Regions from separate parts of the Homo sapiens genome. Here region 2 is linked to region 1. A link means that fine-mapping ties the variant in region 1 to the expression of a gene that starts in the linked region. Tissue or cell type: whole blood. Region 1 holds a variant in brackets; the other region holds the start of a gene. All regions are shown on one strand. Distances are from middle to middle.

Evidence for each region. PIP is the estimated chance that this variant, and not a neighbour inherited with it, causes the effect. A credible set is the group of variants that fine-mapping cannot tell apart.
Region 2: DPEP3 starts here. The variant in region 1 is the best candidate, but not a certain one, in a credible set for the expression of DPEP3 in whole blood (INTERVAL, PIP 0.61).

What each region holds. Positions count from the first base shown.
Region 1 is chr16:67,690,157-67,695,390 of GRCh38, forward strand. The region is part of intron 1 of GFOD2 (Gfo/Idh/MocA-like oxidoreductase domain containing 2); the gene reads right to left. Among named protein-coding and RNA genes, the nearest start is that of C16orf86, 26 kb to the left of the region's middle. The variant A/G (reference allele first, on the strand shown) is at 3,010.
Region 2 is chr16:67,977,718-67,982,951 of GRCh38, forward strand. DPEP3 (dipeptidase 3) reads right to left here and starts at 2,782. Exons shown (of 10, transcript NM_001370198.1): 1 at 2,377-2,782; 2 at 1,922-2,048; 3 at 780-909; 4 at 550-691; 5 at 221-290; 6 at 1-112. The coding sequence starts at 2,663. RefSeq lists an enhancer at 2,106-2,606.

The DNA of each region.
Region 1 (5,234 bases):
GACTCTGCTTTCATTTGTTTGGGGCATATACCCAGAAGTGGAATTGCCGGGTCATGGTAATTAGATTTTTAATTTTCTGAGGAACCACCATACTGTTTTCCACAGTGGCTGTACCATTTTACATTTCCTCCAACAGCGTGCAAGACTTCTGATTTCTCCACGTCCTCACCAACCCTTGTTATTTTCTGGTGTTTTTTGTTGGTTAGCCGTTCTGATGGATGTGAGGTGACCATTATTCACTATTTTTTTTTTTTTTTTGAGACAGAGTCTTGTTCTGTCACCCAGGCTGGAGTGGAGTGGCACTGGTCTTGAACTCCCGACTTCAAGTGATCTGCCTGCCTCGGCTGCCCAAAGTGCTGGGATTACAGGCATGAGCCACCATGCCTGGCTTCATCATTCACTTTTATCGTTCACTTTTAAAGCCCCCCAGGTGATCCTAGTGTGCAGCCACCAGCTGAGAACCTCTGAACTATGTTTAACGCATGTGAAAAATTATCTACATTTGGAGTCATAACAAAATGTCCTGTTTGTTATATGTACACTTTCCTGAACCTTCTCACCCTCTGTATTATGATTAAAAGGACAAATCTGTCATTAAGAGGGAAAAATCTCTAACACAACTATTTTAACTTCTATGTATTACCTTTGGTAACATCATTTTACCAATAATTTTATAAACACCATACGGTCCCTTTGTTTACCAATTATTTATTGATTCTTTTTTGAAATGGAGTCTCACTCTGTCATCCAGGCTGGAGTGCAGTGGCACAATCTCAGCTCACTGCAACCTCCGCCTCTTGGGTTCAACCGATTCTCATGCCTTAGCCTCCCGAGTAACTGGGACTACAGGCATGTGTCATCATGCCCAGCTAATTTTTATATTTTTTAGTAGAGATGGGGTTTCACCATGTTGGCCAGGCTGGTCTTAAACTCCTGACCTCAGGTGATCCGTCTGCCTTAGCCTCCCAAAGTGCTGGGATCACAGGTGTGAGCCACTGTGCCTGGCCTACCAATTACCTTTAAAAAGCTAACTACTCCTGATCTTGGTCACTATCATAATTTTTATTTTGAGACAGATTCTTGCTCTGTTGCCCAGGCTGGAGTGCAATGGCTTGATCATGGCTCACTGCAGCCTCAACCTCACAGGCTCAAGGGATCCTCCCACCTCAGCCTCCTGAGTAGCTGGGATTACAGGTGCACACCACTGTGCCTGGCTAATTTTTGCATTTTTTGTAGAGACAGGGTTTCACTATGTCACCCAGGCTGGTCTCGAACTCCTGGCCTCAACTGATCTGCCCATCCTGGCCTCCCAAAGCGCTAGGATTACAGAAGCAAGTCACACTGTGCCTAGACCCCCCCCCAAAAAAAAAAAAATTAAGACTCTGCGGCAGGTCCCTCTGCATAGCACAGCTTCTGCTTTCTTTGAGATGACCAACTCCTGGAACTCCTCTCTACCCTACATCTTCCCTCCTCTGTAAATCTTTTCTGACTGTACCCCCCCAGGAGCTCCTCCCTCTGCACCTTCTATATACTTGCAATAGGAACTAAACTTACTCCTCTTTTGTGTCCTCAGGCCCACAAACACAGCAGGCCCTCCACTGATTAGTGAATGAATAAATTAATGAACTCACTGTGCTCAGTAAAGTGTTTTCTGGATGCGCCTACTCACTGGTGTCACCAGCTTCTCATGGCCACATTCGTCCATGAAACACCAAAGTTACCCTCTGAAAACATACTGGAGGTTCTATCCTCACGTGCTACTGATAGTGATACAGAATCGTACAGCTGTTCTGAATAACAAGTAATCTGGCCTTATATATAATTAAAACTATGCATTTTGTGACTCACAAATTCTACTCGTGTGTGTGTGTATGTGTGTTCCCAAAGAAATTCTCATAGGGATGCACTGATAAGGGATACAAAGATATTTACCACATCATGTCTGAGGTGCAGAGTTGGAGACAATCTGGGGATCAGAAGTGGGCAGGTAAAGTGTGGGGGATATACCCACTGGGGTTCTCTGCAAGTTAGAAACAATACTAGATGAATACAGTCACATGAATGAACTTGGTAAAAAAAAAAAAAAAAAGAAAACATAGCGAGCTCTAATACATTATTTATATAAACTAAAAATACACACACAGGCTGAGTGCGGTGGCTCACGCCTGTAATTCCAGCATTTTGGGAGGCAGAGGTGGGCGGATCACCTGAGATCAGTTCACGACCAGCCTGATCAACATGGCAAAACCCCATCTATACTAAAAAATAAAAAAATTAGCTGGATGTGATTGTGCACGCCTGTAGTCCCAGCTACTCAGGAGGCTGAGGCAGGAGAATCGTTTGAACCCAGGAAGCAGAGGTTGCAGTGAGCTGAGATAATGCCACTGCACTCCAGCTTGGGTGACAGAGCAAGACTCTGTCTCAAACAAAACAAAACAAAACAAAAACCCACACACATGCACAGAAACAAAAATGCTTCATAGGAAATTATACAAATGAAAGGATACATACTAAATACATTTACAGGGGATAGGGAAACCAGAGTAGAGAAAGGGGATAAAGGGGAATAATTTAAAAAAAAAAAAAAAGGCCGGGCACGGTGGCTCATGCCTGTAATCTCAGCTCTTTGGGAGGCTGAGGAGGGCGAATCACGAGGTCAGGAGATTGAGACCATCCTGGCTAACATGGTAAAACCCCGTCTCTACTAAAAATACAAAAACAAAATTATCCAGGCGTGATGGTGGGCACCTGCAGTCCCAGCTACTCGGGAGGCTGAGGCGGGAGAATGGCGTGAACCCAGGAGGCAGAGCTTGCAGTGAGCCGAGATTGCGCCACTGCACTCCAGCCTGGGCGACAGATTGAGACTCTGTCTCAAAAACAAAAACAAAAAAAAAAGGAAAATGTGGTTCTAAAAGGAATCCTTTCTCACTTTTTAAATAAAAAGCTTGCATTTCAAACACAAAGTGACAGATATATGTACCTCTGGTCCTACTAATGGGACACCATCAC[A/G]AGCTCCCTGATCTAGCCAAATCCAGGGAGTAGCACTGCATCTGCATATTTAGCCAGGACCACTTATAATTCAGACAAAGAACCTTATTTCAAATTAGCCACCACACCTGGCTTTTTGGGTTTTTTTTTTTTTGACACAGTCTCACTCTGTCACCCAGGCTGGAGTCCAGTGGTGCCATCTCGACTCACTGCAACCTCCGCCTCCTGGGTTCAAGTAAGTGGCTGGGACTATAGGTGCGTGTCATCACGCCCTGCTAATCATACCTGGCTAATTTTTTGTGTTTTTTGTAGAGACAGGGTTCCATCATGTTGCCCAAGCTGGTCTCAAACTCCTGGGCTCAAGCAATCCTCCTGCCTTGGCCTCCCAAATTGCTGGGATTACAGGCATGAGCCATGGTCCCTGGCTAGAATCTTTTTTGGGAAGTGGAAAAATGTACATTACAGAATGTACCATTTTAAACCATTTTTAGGTGTACAGTTCAGTGCACTAATACATTCGTATTGTGCAACCATCACCAACATCCACCTCCAGGACTTCATCATCATTCCATACTGAAACTCTGTACCCAGCCAAAATTAACCATTTTAAAGTGAACAATTCAGTGGCCGCTGGGTGCAATGCCTCATGCCTGTAATCCCAGCACTTTGGGAGGCTGAGGTGGGAGGATTACTTGTGCCCAGGAGTTTCAGGCTATAGTGGGTTATGATCATGCCATTGCACTCCAGCCTGGGTGACAGAGCAACAGAAAGACTCTGTCTCAAAAACAAAAAACAAACAAACAAACAAAAAAACCAACCCCCATAATCCAGTGGCATTTAGGACATACTTTTTTTTTTTTAAGACAGAGTCTTGCTCTATCACCCAGGCTGGAATGCAGTGGTGCAATCTTGGCTCACTGCAACTTCCACCTCCCGAGCTCTGAGGCTGAGGCGATTCTCCTGCCTCAGCCTCCTGACTGGCTGGGATTACAGGCACACGCCATCACACCTGGCTAATTTTTTTGTATTTTTAGTAGAGACAGGGTTTCACCATGTTCGCCAGGCTGGTCTCAAACTCCTGACCTCAGGTGATCCGCTCGCCTGGGCCTCCAGAAGTGCTGGGATTACAGGCATGAGCCACTGAGCCTGGCCTAATTTTTTATTTTTTGTAGAGATGGGGTCTCACTGTGTTACCTAGGCTGGTCTCAAACTCTGGCCTCAAACTCCTGGCCTCAAGCGATTCTCTCAGCTCAGCCTCCCAAGGTGGTGGGATTATAAGCGTGACCCACTGAGCCTGGCTTTTTAATAAAAAAGTTTTTTTTAATTTTATTTTAATATAGAGGCAGCATCTTACTATGTTGCCCAGGCTGGTCTTAAATTCCTGGCTTCAAGTGATCCTCCCACCTCGGCCACCCAAAGCACTGGGATTATAGGCATGAGACACCACGGCTGGAGAAATTGTTTTCTCAACTTCATTTTCAAGCCCAGCATCTCTTTTGCTCCTACTGTAGACACAAGTGTACTGGACTAAGAAAATGTCTATAGTAGGGGATGGTTTGTCAGCATAGCCCAGTATAACATCCTGTACTGCTCGATTCTATCTGAAGTACACCTGTTCCTTTGTGAACCACTAAATTACACATGACTTGGGCTGCCTCTAACTCCAGATCCCTGCCAATTTCGTGCCTCTTGTCTCCACTCTCTGTGACTGTGAAGCTTGGCTTGCCTCCTGTACTCTCACTGGGGTTGTTTTATTTTAACCAGCTTTCATTCTTTCTGATGGTAAACTGTCTGTGGCCACTCAGTCACCTTGCTTTCCTTTTCTACTTTCTCCATCTCTCTCTTTTTTTTTTTTTTTTTTTTTTTGAGACGGAGTCTCACTCTGTCGCCTAGGCTGGAGCGTAATGGTGCAATCTCGGCTCACTGCAACCTTTGCCGCTCCGGTTCAAGCGATTCTCCTTGCCTCAGCTACTACCTCAGTAGCTGGGGTTACAGGCACACGCCACCATACCCAGCTAATCTTTGTATTTTTAGTAGAGACAAGGTTTTACCATGTTGGCCAGGCTGGTCTCGAACTCCTGACCTCAGGTGATCCACCCGCCTTGACCTCCCAAAGTGCTGGGATTACAGGCATGAGCCACTGAGCCCAGCCACCATCTCTCTCTTTTCTCTTTGCTAATTCTGCCCCTACAGGCTTCTCTACTAGTTTTCTTAGAAAACAGGTCAAGCACACAGTTATCTTCTAC
Region 2 (5,234 bases), 290 kb after region 1:
GGGAGAAGATCACAGGAGCCTGAGACACTTCCAGGACCCTTCTTATCAAGGTGTCCGATGCATAGGACAAATCTATCATCATGCCCAGGCGGTTCAACTCCTCTACTACTTTCTGCAGAAACAATTAGGTTTTTTTGTGGGGGAGGGTGTTGGGGTGCAAAGGTGTACACACATATCCGTAGGCAGCAGGTGGGTTGGGGTACAAAACAGGAGTCCTCACCTCACCAAAGCTTGTCAATCCGCTGACGTTGGTGTACATGTGGTGTCTGAACTTGGTGGAACTCTCTGCCCTGCAGGACAGCCATGGAAGGGCAATTTAGCTGATCACACCTTGGGCCATCACAGCCTGGGGGCCCTGGCTCTATCCATCCATCCTGCTTCCAGAACAGGTGCAGAACCAGCTGCTTTCTGGGATTGTGAGGGACCCACTGGGTGTCCAGCCTCCCTCTGCGGACCCCTTCATCCTCAACGGCTTGGTCACACCCATGCCAGGAATGGGGCAGTTTCCACACCATGCCATCTAGCATCCTGGCCAGGTGTTATGCTCACCATGGTGTACTGCAGGTGAAGGTAAGTGTCAGGTAGCGCACCCCCAGCACATAGAAACTGCGCAGCACAGAGAGGCTGCTGTCCAGTGAGTGACCACCCTCCACGCCAATGAGGCAGGCCAGCTTTTGAGAGCTGTTCAGACCTAGAAGGAGGTAGAGAGTCAAGTGGTTAGATCCCAGGAACAGAACCTCCAGAGTGACATCCTGACTACCTCTCATCTGCTGGCCCACCTTCAGCTGAGGTCACAAGCTCGAGTTCAGAGTAGGAGGCACACATGCGGTGAATGAGGTCAATCTGCTCCAGGGCGAGGCGCACGGCAGTCTGGTCCTGGGACTGGCATGAGACGGAGGCTGACCAGAACTGAGGGTAGGTCAAGGGGTCCAGAATGAGGCCAGGGCGGTCTTCAACCCCCTAGGCCTGCCACTCCTGCCTCAGACCCCATAACACCCATTTGGGTCAGTGGCCCCAAGTGAGGCACTACATGACTCCATGGTACCTTGATGACTTTTTTTAAAATTATTTTTTATTTTTATTTTAAAATTTGAGACAGGGTCTTGCTCTGTCACCCAGGCTAGAGTGCAGTGGTGTGATCATGGCTCACTGCAGCCTTGACCCCCCAGGCTCAAACAATCCTCCTGCCTCAGCCTCCCAAAGTGTTGGCATTACAGATGTGAACTACCGAGCCTGGTTCCTTGATGACTGTTTGCTGCCAGCAGTCAAATGATGGACTCACGACACATCATAAATTACTGTTACGGCCAGGCCAAGTGGCTCATGCCTGTAATCTCCACACTGTGGGAGGCCGAGGAGGGTGGATCATGTGAGGTCAGGAGTTCGAGACCAGCCTGGCCAACATGGTAAAACCCTGTCTCTACTAAAACTACAAAAATTAGCAGGGCGTGGTGGCGAGTGCCTGTAATCCCAGCTACTCAGGAGGCTGAGGCAGGGAGAATTGCTTGAACCCGGGAGGCGGAGGTTGCAGTGAACCGAGATCGTGCCACTGTACTCCAGCCTGGGCGACAGAAGGAGACACTGTCTCAAAAATGCAAACAAACAAACAAGCAAAAAACTGCTGTTAGTCCATGTGCTATGTGAATGCCCCAAGGCCAATCCACTATGTCCTTTGTGGTTACGGCAGACCCCACACTCACCAGGGATTTTCTGGTCATTTTCTGCGTGTTTCCACAGAACCTGGGCATACATGCAGCTAGCCTGTCTTGGCCTCCAAGGCCCCACTCTCCTTAGAAACCACATGATGGCACACTGCATGCCCCATTGTATTTAGTCACCCAGAGGCTGGCTGACCCAGGTTTCTGTGACCCCAACATCCCCCAGCAGCCATGCTGTGGCACCCTGTGTGTCCCTGTGGTACCTGGGCACCCACGAGGCCGTCTCTAAGCCTGTCCAGGCTGGTCTGACCATGGCTGAAATTTCGCAGGTTAACATCCTGAAGCACATTCTTGTAACGCTGTCTCAGGACCTGGGGCAGGTCATTGTGGCTGGGGGTGTGAAGGTCAGATGGAAACACCGCCTCCAGATCAGTCAGGATATATCAGGTGCTTGGGTCTACCCTCCTCCACCCCACCAGGCACCTCCTCACACAGACCATATAGAGACCTCCTGAGGTTGGGTTGGAGGGAGGGGGTTAGATTCCACCAGGAATGGAGTAATGCGGGGAAGGGCACCCATGGGTGATGGAGGAGAGAGGGCATCCAGGGGTGGTGTGAGGGAGCCTCCTTGATAGCCTCCTTGATAGCATGCTCAGAACCTCCTCTCCTGCCCAAGGGTGTGCTCACCCCGCGTTGCCCAAACGCTGCACCTACATACCCGTCCACGAGTGGGAAACTCCGCATCAGGGCCTGCGCGCGACCCCGAAGGTCCAGGGTTTTGGGGGTGCCTGGCGTAGTGAGGCCTGGGGTAGTGAGGGCGCTGGGGACACCCGGCGTGGTGAAGAGGCTGGGGGAGCCCAGCGTGGAGAGGGCTCTGGGGGCGCCCGGCGTGGTCTCCGCGCGGGTTACGGGCTGCCGCAGCAGCAGCAGCAGTAGCAGGAGCAGCAGACGCCGCAGATACCGCCGGCTGAGCGCGCGGGAACCCTCGCGGCCCGTGGGCTGCATGTTGCGCGGGGGTCGGCCGCGGGAGCCTGGGAGGAGCAGGCGATGGGCAGAGGCCGACAATGGGGTCCGGATCATGACGACCCAGCCTCCCGAAGAGGGGGTTGAAGTCACGCGACTCTGAGACCGACGCGCCACGCAAGGGGGCGCCACGGCTTTTCCGCCCCCAAGCAGGAGAGCGCCCCCATGGGCCGGAACCGCCGCTGCAGCGTCGAGGACTCCTCGCCCTTCCACCCCCAGCGCTGGCTCCGTAGACCCCCACACGAGTGGGGGAGGAGGCCAGGCAGGGAACTAGTAGGGGCCCAGGGATCTTCCTGATCTCACCTCCTACCCAGGCCCACGTGGCGGTTAGCTGCCGGCTTGTGCCCAGCTCCTAGGCAGGTCAAATATTCTAAGCTGCGACTCAGAAGAGTTAATTCGGTCTGTCTGGTTTGATGGACAGAAAGATTCCCTATAGGTATTTCATTTCATTTCATTTCATTTCATTTCATTTCATTATTTCATTTCATCTCATTTCAGTTTTGAGACGGAGTTTGGGTCTTGTTGCCCAGGCTGGAGTGCAATGATGCAGTCTCGGCTCACTGCAACCTCCACGTCCCGGGTTCAAGCCATTTTCCTGCCTCAGCCTCCCGAGTAGCTGGGATTACAGGTGCCCGCCACCATGCCCAGCTAATTTTTGTATTTTCAGTAGAGATGGGGTTTTACCATGTTGGCCAGGCTGGCCTTGAACTCCTGACCTCAAGTGATCCTCCTGCCTCGACCTCCCAAAGTGCTGGGATTACAGGCGTGAGCCACCGTGCCCGGCCCCGAAAATGAAATTTAAGAACAATTTTTGTTGGGGATCATTATTTTAGCTTTTTTTCCTTCTCCAAGAGACAGAGTATCTGTCACCCAGGCTGGAGTTGCAGTGGGGTGATCATAGCTTGCTGCAGCCTTGATCATAGCTTGCTGCAGCCTTGAACTTCTGAGCTCAAGCGATCCTCCTTCCTCCACCTCCCAAGTAGCTGAGACTATAGGTGCAGTGCCACCATGCATGGCTAATTGTTATTTTTTATTTTATTAAAACAAATTTTTTTTTGAGACAGGGTCTCACTGGAGTGCAGTGGCACCATCTCAGCTCACTGTAGCCTCGACCTCCCAGGTAAAAGTGATCCTCCTGCTTCAGCTCCCTAAGTAGCTGGGAGGGACTACAGGCATGCACCACCATGCCCAGCTAATTTTTGTATATTTGCATTTTTTTTTAGAGACAGGGTTTTACCATGTTGCCCAGACTGGTCTTGAACTCCTGAGCTCAAGCGATCTGCCCACCTAGGTCTCCCAAAGTGCTAGGATTACAGGCATGAGCCACCACGTCCGGCCTTATTTCTTTTTTAGAGACGTGGTTTTTTTTTTGAGACGGAGTCTCACTGTGCCACCCAGGCTGGAGTGCAGTGGCTCCATCTCTGCTCACTGCAAGCTCCGCCTCCCGGGTTCATGCCAGTCTCCTGCCTCAGCCTCCCGAGTAGCTGGGACTACAGGCGCCCACCACCATGCCCAGCTAATTTTTTGTATTTTTAGTAGAGACCGGGTTTCACCGTGTTAGCCAGGATGGTCTTGATCTCCTGACCTCGTGATCCGCCCACCTTGGCCTCCCAAAGTTCCGGGATTACAGGCGTGAGCCACCGCACCGGGCCGAATATTTTTTTCTATATATATGTTAGTATACAGACACAAAAATGAGAGGTGACAGCGTGCTGGCAGCCCTCACAGCCCTCGCTCCCTCTCGGCACCTCCTCGGCCTTGGCGCCCACTCTGGCCGCGTTTGAGGAGCCCTTCAGCCCGTCGCTGCACTGTGGGAGCCCCTTTCTGGGCTGGACAAGGCTGGAGCCGGCTCCCTCAGCTTGCGGGTAGGTGTGGAGAGAGAGGCGTGGGCGGGAACCGTGGCTGCAGGCTGCGCTTGCGGGCCAGCTCGAGTTCCGGGTGGGCGTGGGCTTGGCAAGCCCCGCACTCGGAGCGGCCAGCCGGCCCGGGCAGTGAGGAGCTTAGCACCTGGGCCAGCAGCTGCTGTGCTCGACTTCTCGCTGGGCCTTAGCTGCCTCCCCGCCGGGCAGGGCTCGGGACCTGCAGCCCTCCATGCCTGAGCCTCCACCCCCGCCGTGCGCTCCTGTGCAGCCCAAGCCTCCCCGACGAGCGCCAACCCCTGTTCCACGGCGCCCAGTCCCATCGACTGCCCAAGGGCTGAGGAGTGCGGGCACACGGCGCCGGACTGGCAGGCAGCTCCACCTGCGGCCCCGGTGCAGCATCCACTGGGTGAAGCCAGCTGGGCTCCTGAGTCTGGTGGGGACTTGGAGAATCTTTATGTCTAGCTAAGGGATTGTAAATACACCAATCAGCACTCTGTATGTAGCTCAAGGTTTGTAAACACACCAATCAGCACCCTGTGTCTAGCTCCGGGGTTGTGAATGCACCAATCGACACTCTGTATCTAGCTAATCTAGTGGGGACGTGGAGAACTTTTGTGTCTAGCTCAGGGATTGTAAACGCACCAGTCAGCACCCTGTCAAAACGGGCCCATCAGCTCTCTGTAAAACAGAC